Linked DNA regions of Homo sapiens. The protein of the gene in region 3 purifies or fractionates together with the protein of the main gene of each other region. This does not show direct contact. Each region holds a gene or a part of one and is shown on either strand. Other genes may lie near its edges.

Region 1 (3,659 bases), on a different chromosome or scaffold from region 3:
CTCTGTCTCAAACAAAAATAAAAATAAAAAATAAAGGCGGGCACAGTGGCTCACGCCTGTAATCCCAGCACTTTGGGAGGCCAAAGTGGGCAGATCATCTGAGGTCGGGAGTTCGAGACCAGCCTGACCAACATGGAGAAGCCCCGTTTCTACTAAAAATACAAAATTAGCCGGGCGTGGTAGCGCATGCCTGTAATCCCAGCTACTCGGAAGGGTGAGGCAGGAGAATCACTTGAACCTGGGAGGCAGAGGTTGCAGTGAGCCGAGATCGCACCATTGCACTCCAGACTGGGCAACAAGAGCGAAACTCCATCTCAAAAAAAAAGAAGAAATCCCAGGCCGAGAATAAAGAAAAAAAAATAAGAGAACAAAGAAAGTTCTTGAAAAATAAAAACACCAAGTGCCAAAATAAATTCATATGAAGGACTGGATAATAAAGATAAGGCTGGCCCCAAATCAGCCATTTAAAAAGGCATAGGCAAACTATATATAGCCCATATGGCCACCACCTAATTTTGTAAATGAAGTTTTGCTAGAACACACCAGCAGTCATTCATTTACATATTGCATACATATGCATATGGCTGCTTTCATTCTACAATGGCAGAGTGGGGTAGCTGCAATACTGTGGACTGCAAAGTTATTTATATCCGACCCTTTACAGGAAAAAAATTGTCAATTCCTTGTCTAAAAAATAAAGTTGAACAAAGCTCACAGAAGGTTAGCCAAAAACAAAGAAACAAAAAGTATACAGAGACATGCAGGCATATGTCCCAAAGTTCCAACATCTATCTAATACAAATTTCACAAGGAGAAAACAAAAAGAAATGTGGGGCAGTCATACTCAAAAGAAATTAATGTTTTCTAGAGCTAAAGACAAATCTTTAGATTCAAGGGCCCACTGAATCAGTATTTATGTATTTACTGAATCAGTATTTATGATAAATACTGATTATCATAAATACTGATTTAGCAGAATGAACAAAAATGATCCATGTTTGATCCACAACAGTGAACCTGCAGCATACTAGGGAGAGATAAAACCCTAGAAATCTCTGAATAATTCAGGTTGCATACAACAGAATAAGAATGTCCAACATCGGACTCCCTTTTTATGATGCTAATATAACTTTAACATCCAAATGAGATAAGGATGGGGGATAAAAAGTAACCTAAGGTGGCTAACAGCATTCATAAATAGAGATGTAAAAATATAAAATTTTTAAAAGCCTCAAACTGAATTCAGCAAGGTATTAAAAAAAAAAAGACGGAAGGCTGAATACATGGATGTTCATTTTATTATTCCTTAAACTGTACATATATATACTTATGTAGTTATATTTCATAATTTAAAAAATTTAAAAATTATAACACAGAAAGAATATAAAGAAAACCTCAATACCCAGATGACACCAATTTTATTTATATTCTCGTGTATTTTTGAAGATTTTTTTAAAGGTATATGTTTATATCTTTACAAAATTAGAATAATCTCATACATATGCATGTTTCTCCTGAGAATAAGTTTCTATAATAAGAAAATAAACTTAAAAAAAAAAAAAAAAGATTCCCCCTCCCCCTCCCCCTCTCCCCGGTCTCCCTCTGATGCCACCAAAGTTGTGAAAGCCAAGGCTGGACTGTACTGCTGCCATCTCGGCTCACTGCAACCTCCCTGCCTGATTCTCCTGCCTCAGCCTGCAGAGTGCCTGGGATTGCAGGCGCGCGCCGCCACACTTGACTGGTGTTTGCATGTTTTGGTGGAGACGGGGTTTCGCCGTGTTGGCCGGGCTGGTCTCCAGCTCCTGACCGCGAGTGATCTGCCTGCCTCAGCCTCCCGAGGTGCCGGGATTGCAGACGGAGTCTCGCTCACTCAGTGCTCAATGTTGCCCAGGCTGGAGTGCAGTGGCGTGATCTCGGCTTGCTACAACCTCCACCTCCCAGCCGCCTGCCTTGCCTCCCAAAGTGCTGAGATTGCAGCCTCTGCCCGGCCGCCACCCCGTCTGGGAAGTGAGGAGCGTCTCTGCCTGGCCGCCCATCGTCTGGGATGTGAGGAGCCCTTCCGCCCAGCCGCCCAGTCTGGGAAGTGAGGAGCGCCTCTTCCCAGCCGCCATCCCGTCTAGGAAGTGAGGAGTGTCTCTGCCCGGCCGCCCATCGTCTGAGATGTGGGGAGCGCCTCTGCCCTGCCGCCCCGTCTGGGATGTGAGGAGCCCCTCTGCCCAGCCGCGGCCCCGTCTGGGAACTGAGGAGTGTCTCTGCCCGACCGCCACCCCATCTGGGAGGTGAGGAGCGTCTCTGCCCGGCCGCCCCGTCTGAGAAGTGAGGAGCCCCTCCGCCCGGCAGCCGCCCCGTCTGCGAAGTGAGGAGCCCCTCCGCCCGGCAGCCGCCCCGTCCGGGAGGGAGGTGGGGGGCGCCTCCACCCGGCCACTGCCCCGTCTGGGAGGTGGGGGGCGCCTCTGCCCGGCCGCCCTATCTGGGAAGTGAGGAGCCCCTCTGCCCAGCCACCACCCCGTCTGGGAGGTGTACCCAACAGCTCATTGAGAACGGGCCATGATGACAAAGGCGGTTTTGTCGAATAGAAAACGGGGAAATGTGGGGAAAAGAAAGAGAGATCAGATTGTTACTGTGTCTGTGTAGAAAGAAGTAGACATGGGAGACTCCATTTTGTTCTGTACTAAGAAAAATTCTTCTGCCTTGGGATGCTGTTAATCTATAACTTTACTCCCAACCCCGTGCTCTCTGAAACATGTGCTGTGTCCACACAGGGTTAAATTGATTAAGGGCGGTGCAAGATGTGCTTTGTTAAACAGATGCTTGAAGGCAGCATGCTCGTTAAGAGTCATCACCACTCCCTAATCTCAAGTACCCAGGGACACAAACACTGCAGAAGGCCGCAGGGTCCTCTGTCTAGGAAAACCACAGACCCTTGTTCACATGTTTATCTGCTGACCTTCCCTCCACTGTTGTCCTATGACCCTGCCAATCCCCCTCTCCGAGAAACACCCAAGAATGATCAATAAATACTAAAAAAAAAAATAAAAAAAAAAAAAAGATTCTTATGTTGCCCTAAATCAGGAGGTCAAAAGTGGTATGTGCTCTCTGTTATCTTTCTTCACTTGATACAATGCAAGTTGATTTTTCCATATCGTTGTTCAGCATTTGACTTTTCATGACAGCAATTATTTTAGCACATAACTATCATAATTTTATCTAAACCCTTTTTATTGTATATTTAAGTTGTTTCTAATTTCCTACTATTTAGCCGGGTGCGGTGGCTCGTGCCTGTAATCCCAGGATTTTGGGAGGCTGAGGCAGGTGGATCACCTAAGGTCAGGAGTTTGAGACCAGCCTGACCAACATGGTGAAACCCCGTCTCTACTAAAAATACAAATATTAGCAAGGCATGGTGGCGTACGCCTGTAATTCTAGCTACTCGGTAGGCTGAGGCAGGGGAATTGCTTGAACCCAGGAGGTGGAGGTTGCAGTGAGCTGAGACCTTGCCATTTAACTCCAGCCTGGGCAACAAGAGCAAAACTCTGTCTCAAAAATAAATAAAATAAATAAATAAATAAATAAATAAATAAATAATTTCCTACTATTAATGCTATGATGAACAATCATTTTACCATCTCTAAGCACAAAAAAGGAATTGATCCCAGTTG
Region 2 (2,820 bases), on a different chromosome or scaffold from region 3:
AAAATGCAGCAAATTAATTATAATGTAAGTTAAGATTTGCTTTTTGCCAAGTTGCAAAGTTGTATCCACATCAGGTCACTGTAAAAATGTATTATCTTGTAAAACTTATGTAAAAAAAAAAAAAAAAAAAAGGCAAAGATACTAAAAATTTTAAGTCCGACTTTATTTTTCCTACAAGTGTTTAGAAATGCTTCTGGGATTTGCTAATATTATCTGTCCTTGGGAACAGTATTGAAAAAACTGCTTAGTGGTATTACAGCTTTAGCAAACCTACCTCACAGCTGGGATGAGAGGATAAAATACAACTAATTTTGTACCCTATAGTGCCTAGAGCAGTCCAAGTGCTAAATAAATATTTACTGATTAAAACCAAACTATAGCTACTCGGGAGGCTGGAGGAGGATCGCTTGAGCCCAGGAGTTTGAGGCCATTCTGGGCAATATAGCAAGACCCTGTCTCGAAAAAAAAAAAAAAAAGAAAAAACCAAACTAACCAAAACTCTGTAAAAGAGTGCTTTGAGCTCTACAAATACCAAGTATTTATTGTGGTATATTTTTAGAATGTAGCCATACAGTGTAATTATGGGTATCTGTCATGGATCACAATTATTATTCATAGTAAGTCATTGTGATACAGAAGTTTGTTTCTTCACTTCCCCTTAAGAAGCCAACTATAGTAATCATGCAAAGTTGAGGAGTATGTCCTTCAGGGATATAAAAAGAAAAACAAATCTGTTTTTTGAGCTAAAAGAGCACATCCAAACAAGAATTTAACTGGCTAAAATTTAGTAATTACTGTTAAGTAACTATCAAACTTGAAATCTTACAAGATAAATGGTTAAGATGTCTTGAGTATTTGGGATGGGGGCCTGTGAGTCTGATTGAGACATACATTTTACAGAGTAGCAGCACTGGAAAGGGCTAGTCCAACCTCCCAGCCTCTGCTTGGGTCTCCGCTGCCCCAGCCACACACATCCTAGAATTCTTGTAAACATATCTGGCTCTGTGTTAACAGTCACTTGTTATATGTTTTCTAAGAGATTAGTTCTTCCTGTGATTTTTCCAAGTACGCTGAAAGTAGTAGTATGAACTTAAGGAGGCTAGTCAAAGAAACTTGGAGTTATAGGTATTTTTAAAGAATAAATCCTCAATTCCATCATCACTTGGCGGGGAGGGGGCACTTATTAAGCATTTTAGATAATAAAACTGGTTAAGCTTACTCTGGTAGAACAGACAATCAAATCTGGGGATTGCTGAGAACAATAATAAGCTGAAGTATGGCTCACAGAATCCTAACACAAATCATTAAGTCTCTAGTTAGATTTGTTATCCTAAAATTTTTCATAGAATTTTAAAATCTAATTCTGACTTGTATGGTTAAGAAAAGCAGTTAAATATTTTACTACTTATCAAGGGCTTTTAAAATAAATAAATCTGATTGATAGGAAGAAAGGCAAATAAATACCTATGTAGACATTCTATAATAACAAAGAGCCATAGATGATAAAGGAATTAGATTTTAATGTAGAATGGGTGGTTTCTGAAACAAAGGTATGTGGTACTTTGTAGTTATTGATGAGAAGCCAGTAACCAGTAGTGTTTTCCTAGATATATGCCCACCCTCACACAACTTTCTTCATTAACAAACATTAAATATGCATTTGTATCTTATTAAATTATATTGTATAATGCTGAAGGAAAACAAAAAGTGTTCAAATAATCATAACTTCTACATTACAGGTTCTGTTTAGATGCAGAACTAGAGGGGCCAGGGTAAATGTAGATAAAGAGATATATAGCACCATGCTTCTTAATGCTTCATACTTTTGCAAACAGAAAAAAAAAGTTTTACTTTTATTATAAAACTTCATCTATGGTCAAAGTAAACACTGTTACATTTAAATTGCTTTTTAAAAACAATTGCGATCTAAAAAGTCAAAAATCTGAAATTTAATAATATGAGACTTACACTGAATATAATGTTCATTTAGAAGTTGCTGTGGTCCACTTCATTTATAAGGAACAAATATTTTTACAGTACACTATAGCAACAGCAAAAGCCCTCTCTCACCCTGATAGGAATGGGTTTGCTGGGTGTCTAGAAGTTAGATTCCTGCTGAATAGAATTAGCCATCCTTAAAAGATTTTAATCCAATACTGAACTGTTTATAAAATGCTTTCTCTATTGTAATGTACTGTAAGTAGTGAAATTCTGTATATACTGCTATTTTCTGTCTGTTCATTGTTGTGAACTTCTTATGTATATTAGTGAAATAAATTTTCAGCTTTCATGTTGTTTCCTAAACATTCATAAGTATAACTAACTATTAAGAGATTTCTTCCTTTCTTGAGTAACAAATTTGGTGATTATATTCTTTCTGATCCAACCCCAAAAACTAGCTATTCTGAAAAGGCTGATGTTCACTAATGGGAAGAATGAAATGACCCTTCACCTCTTAAGGGAAACAGGCCTCCGCCATTCCCTTTCAAAACTATACTTCTTTTACTTGATACTCAAAACTTCTGCACCAAAATCAGTCAGTATTTTTCCAGAATGCCTTTATTTTCAGTATCATAGAATTTAAATACAGAGTCAAAAGATGATTTATAAAATATAAAACATTTTCTGCTTGGCCGTATTTGAAGACAAGCTGAATACATATCTATGTTCTGAATAAGTCCACTATGGATATATATAGGAAGAGATATACATATATCCATCCACAGATACACACACACATATATATTTCTGCATGTATATATACATAATTCTTTCTATAGTTACAGGAAATACTTCTTCTATAATTCTGATTTTGACTCC
Region 3 (3,659 bases):
CCAAGTGTGGTGGTGCACACCTGTAGTCCCAGCTACTCGGGCAGCTGAGGCAAGAGGATCACTTGCACTGGAAGGTCAAGGCTGCAGTGAGTCATGATCGTAATTGTACCACTGCACTTCAGCGTACCCTGTCTCTACAAAAAATAAAAATAAATAAATAACTTATAGTCTTCATAAAGAAGCAAGTAGATAACGTCTTTTAAAGAACTTTCTTCCAATTAAGAAAAATATTTCCTGTTTTCCCAATTCCTTGATTTAGATTCCTAGATTATATTGTATCAAGTCCCAGAGATTTGTTAATCTTTGCTCCTGCTATCCCAAGACTGTTGATGTAGTAATGTAAAGAACTCAAACATAAAACCTGTTGAAAATTAAACCATCACTTTCTGCGTTTGACCCAACATACTATGTATCCAGAAATACATACATAATATGAAATTATTATGAAATCCAGAAATACATACATACATACATATTATTCAGAGTTGCAAATAATTTTCATCTGTTGTTTCATGAGTATTTTTATTATTTCCAGGTTCGATGGATGATGTACTGGATTGTTTTTGCTCTCTATACTGTGATTGAAACAGTAGCCGATCAAACAGTTGCTTGGTAAGTTTTACTATTGAGAAGGGGCCAGACTACAGACTCATAATCAGGTGTCCTAAGTTCTTATCCTGCTCTTGCTATTAACTGAGTGATTTTCATCAGGTTACCTAATTATCCACCCATTTGTTTTTGTCATCTGCTTTCCCATAGAACACTACTTTCCTTTTAGTCCCCATCAAATAAAGGCAGCTCATTTTCCTCCCCATACGCCGCTCCCTGCTCACCTCCCACACACCTTCCCCCAGTATCTTGGAATAGGGAAAGTTGATTGTCATCATCCTTTTCTGCACTGATGACTTCAGAACATTTTCCTGTATCACTTCCTAAATGACTCCACTTTTGAAGCCCACAGCATCTGGTTTTAGCACCCCTCCCTATCCTATCCTTAAAACTCTCATCTACAAACATTTGAACTGGAAAACGTCAGCACCCACGTGGACACCCACTCAGCACTAGCTTCCTGGCTGCTCTGTTCCAAATAGACGAGGCAAAATTAAAGTGTGTTTATATCCTCAGGGATTTGACATTTTACCAAGGAGCAGTACTTAACTGGACAACTCAAATCTCCCTGTGGTGTATTTCAGTAGTGCATTTCCATCTAAACCCTGCAATCACTTTGAGAACTTCTCCTTTCAAAATATTTTGGTTTACTACCTTGCTGATATCTTCATCTGCCCTTGACGCACAAACCTTCTGTCTAAATTAGCCTAACAATTACTCGTCTTTTTTTTCTTTTTTTTTTTTATACAAGGTCTTGCTCTGTTGCCTAGGCTAGAGTGCAGTGGCACGATCTCGGCTCACTGCAACCTCTACCTCCCGGGTTCAAGCGATTCTCCTGCCTCAGCCTCCCGAGTAGCTGGGATTACAGGCACATGCCACCATGGCCTGGCTAATTTTTGTATTTTTAATAGAGACGGGGTTTCACCATGTTAGCCAGGCTGGTCTCGAACTCCCAACCTCAGGTGATCTGCCTGCCTCGGTCTCCCGAAGTGCTGGGATTGCAGGCATCAGCCATTGCACCCAGCTAAAATGACTCTTTTTTACTTCTTTAACTGGGCTGCTAAATTCAGCTGAAAAAATTAATCAGCTGCTCACATAGGTATCAGCTTGAACCTCATTCTTTTTACTTGCTCCTGGTCAGTGTCTACTTACATTTTGTCTGGGTCTGTTTCAAACCTTTACTATTCTCTCCTTAAGCTGTCTTTCCCATTTTGCTCTTCTCCTGTTCATGTGGCACATTAGGTCCTATTGGATTTGCAAGAAAAAAAATAGAAGTCTTCATACTAAAATATTTTTAACAACCTTCCCTTATTTGCAAACGTCACTGTATCTGTCTTCTGATTTGAAATACTGTAAAAATTTCCCTTCCTGTGCCCCAAAGCTCATTCATTTATCTGTTATATTTTTGGTATAGGGGTTTGGTTGTGGGGGGTCTCTTTGTTTTTAAGTGACAGAGCACAGATCCCCAACCGTGCTACATCGAAGTTTCCAAGTTCTCTTTTTAAGACTTCATTTTTTTCTGATTGCAAATGTAGCCTATATATGTTATTTAAAAATGAACGATGTAGAAAATGTTTAACATGAACAACTGAATCCAGAAACTCCTGTAATTGCAGTGTGGCAGAGACCTCTTTGTTGACTACATAGTAAGTCATCCTCACTGCTCTCTACCTGCCCACCTTGACAGAAGAACTCAAATTTGCTCAGCTATCATTTATCCTAGTGATAAATGGACTACATTTATGTGGTTCTCACAGACAACAAGATACTGAGCCTCTCATTATATATTAGTGAACTTTTGCTGTGGCAAAAAAACAACCATAAAAGTACAGTGGCTTAGAAAAGCAAACTTTTATTTCTTGCTCAAGCTACATGAGGGCAAATGGTTGACTGCATCTTTGCTGGGGTCAGGTCACTTTTGCTGTTGTTTCTGTTGTTGTTTTAGAGACAGGGTCTTGCTCCATTGCCCAAGCTGGAGTGCAATGGCATGATGATAGCTCACCGCACCCTTGAACTCCTGGGCTGAAGCAATCCTCCCAGTTTGGCCTCCCAAAGTGCTGGGATTACAGGCGTGAGCACCTCACCTGGCACCTTAAACCAAGGCTGAAGAAGCAGCTGTTCTCATGCCAGAAGGCAAAAGCTTAAAGCAAGAGTTTGAGGGTAATGGGTAATGGAGTGAGGGAGTCGAAGGGTGTTCTAAAGCTTCTGCTTGCATGTGACATGTATCATGTTCTTTTCTGCTGGCCAAAGCAAGCAAGTCACATGGTTAAAGCCACAGTCATTGGTTGAGGAAGTATACTGGGCCAACGGGGGAGGCCCACTGTAACACTTTGTATTTTCCTTGGAAGTGAACAGTTTAGGTCTGCAGAGTGCTGCAATTCTGGCCAAATGAAATTGGAAGGGATATTTTTTCGGAGTTCTGAAAAAGATGAAGACGTGTGTGTATGGGGTAGACATTGTGCACTTGGAGCATATGAAGTCATTCTCTGATAGGCACAACTATCATATGAGATAGGTCATGTACTTCCATGCCAGTTTGGCTCTGCAGATAGGGTGGCCATACCTTGTGCACTGGATAAATGGTATTAGTGCCTTCTCTTAACTGCTGCATTCAGTTTGGCAGCTTTCCTATGCTTACTACAAAGGAAGATTCTTGTATTAGAATGAGGGGGGAATCTCTCAGGTCACACATTCATGAACTGATCTATAGTTGAAACAAGATTATTCAAACACAGTTGTCTCCTGATCACTGACTTTTACATTCAAAAACTTAGCATAGGCTGGGTGCTGTGGCTCACGCCTGTAATCCCACCACTTTGGGAGGCCGAGGTGGGCGGATCACATGAGGTCAGGAGTTCAAGACCAGGCCTGGACAACATGGTGAAACCCCGCCTCTACTAAAAATATGAAAATTAGCCAGGAGTGGTGACGTGCACCTGTAATCCTAACTACTGGGGAGGCTGAGGCAGGAGAATCACTTGAACCCAGGAGGCGGAGGTTGCAATGAGCCGAGATGGTGCCATTGCACTCAGATGACAAGAGCAAAACTC

What was found.
Region 1: the proteins of REEP3 (region 3) and ZC3H11A purify together in Homo sapiens (co-immunoprecipitation; one large-scale study listed by IntAct). This does not show direct contact.
Region 2: the proteins of REEP3 (region 3) and RAB3GAP2 purify together in Homo sapiens (affinity purification with mass spectrometry; one large-scale study listed by BioGRID and IntAct). This does not show direct contact.

The regions. Positions count from the first base shown.
Region 1 is NC_000001.11:203,840,532-203,844,190, reverse strand, and holds part of ZC3H11A (zinc finger CCCH domain-containing protein 11A), read right to left. Parts: intron 1-3,659. UniProt on the Homo sapiens protein: Through its association with TREX complex components, may participate in the export and post-transcriptional coordination of selected mRNA transcripts, including those required to maintain the metabolic processes in embryonic cells.
Region 2 is NC_000001.11:220,147,763-220,150,582, reverse strand, and holds the end of RAB3GAP2 (rab3 GTPase-activating protein non-catalytic subunit), read left to right. Parts: 3' UTR 1-2,290; downstream 2,291-2,820. UniProt on the Homo sapiens protein: Regulatory subunit of the Rab3 GTPase-activating (Rab3GAP) complex composed of RAB3GAP1 and RAB3GAP2, which has GTPase-activating protein (GAP) activity towards various Rab3 subfamily members (RAB3A, RAB3B, RAB3C and RAB3D), RAB5A and RAB43, and guanine nucleotide exchange factor (GEF) activity towards RAB18.
Region 3 is NC_000010.11:63,594,243-63,597,901, forward strand, and holds part of REEP3 (receptor expression-enhancing protein 3), read left to right. Parts: intron 1-535; coding exon 536-612; intron 613-1,761; exon of another isoform or gene 1,762-1,854; intron 1,855-3,659. UniProt on the Homo sapiens protein: Microtubule-binding protein required to ensure proper cell division and nuclear envelope reassembly by sequestering the endoplasmic reticulum away from chromosomes during mitosis.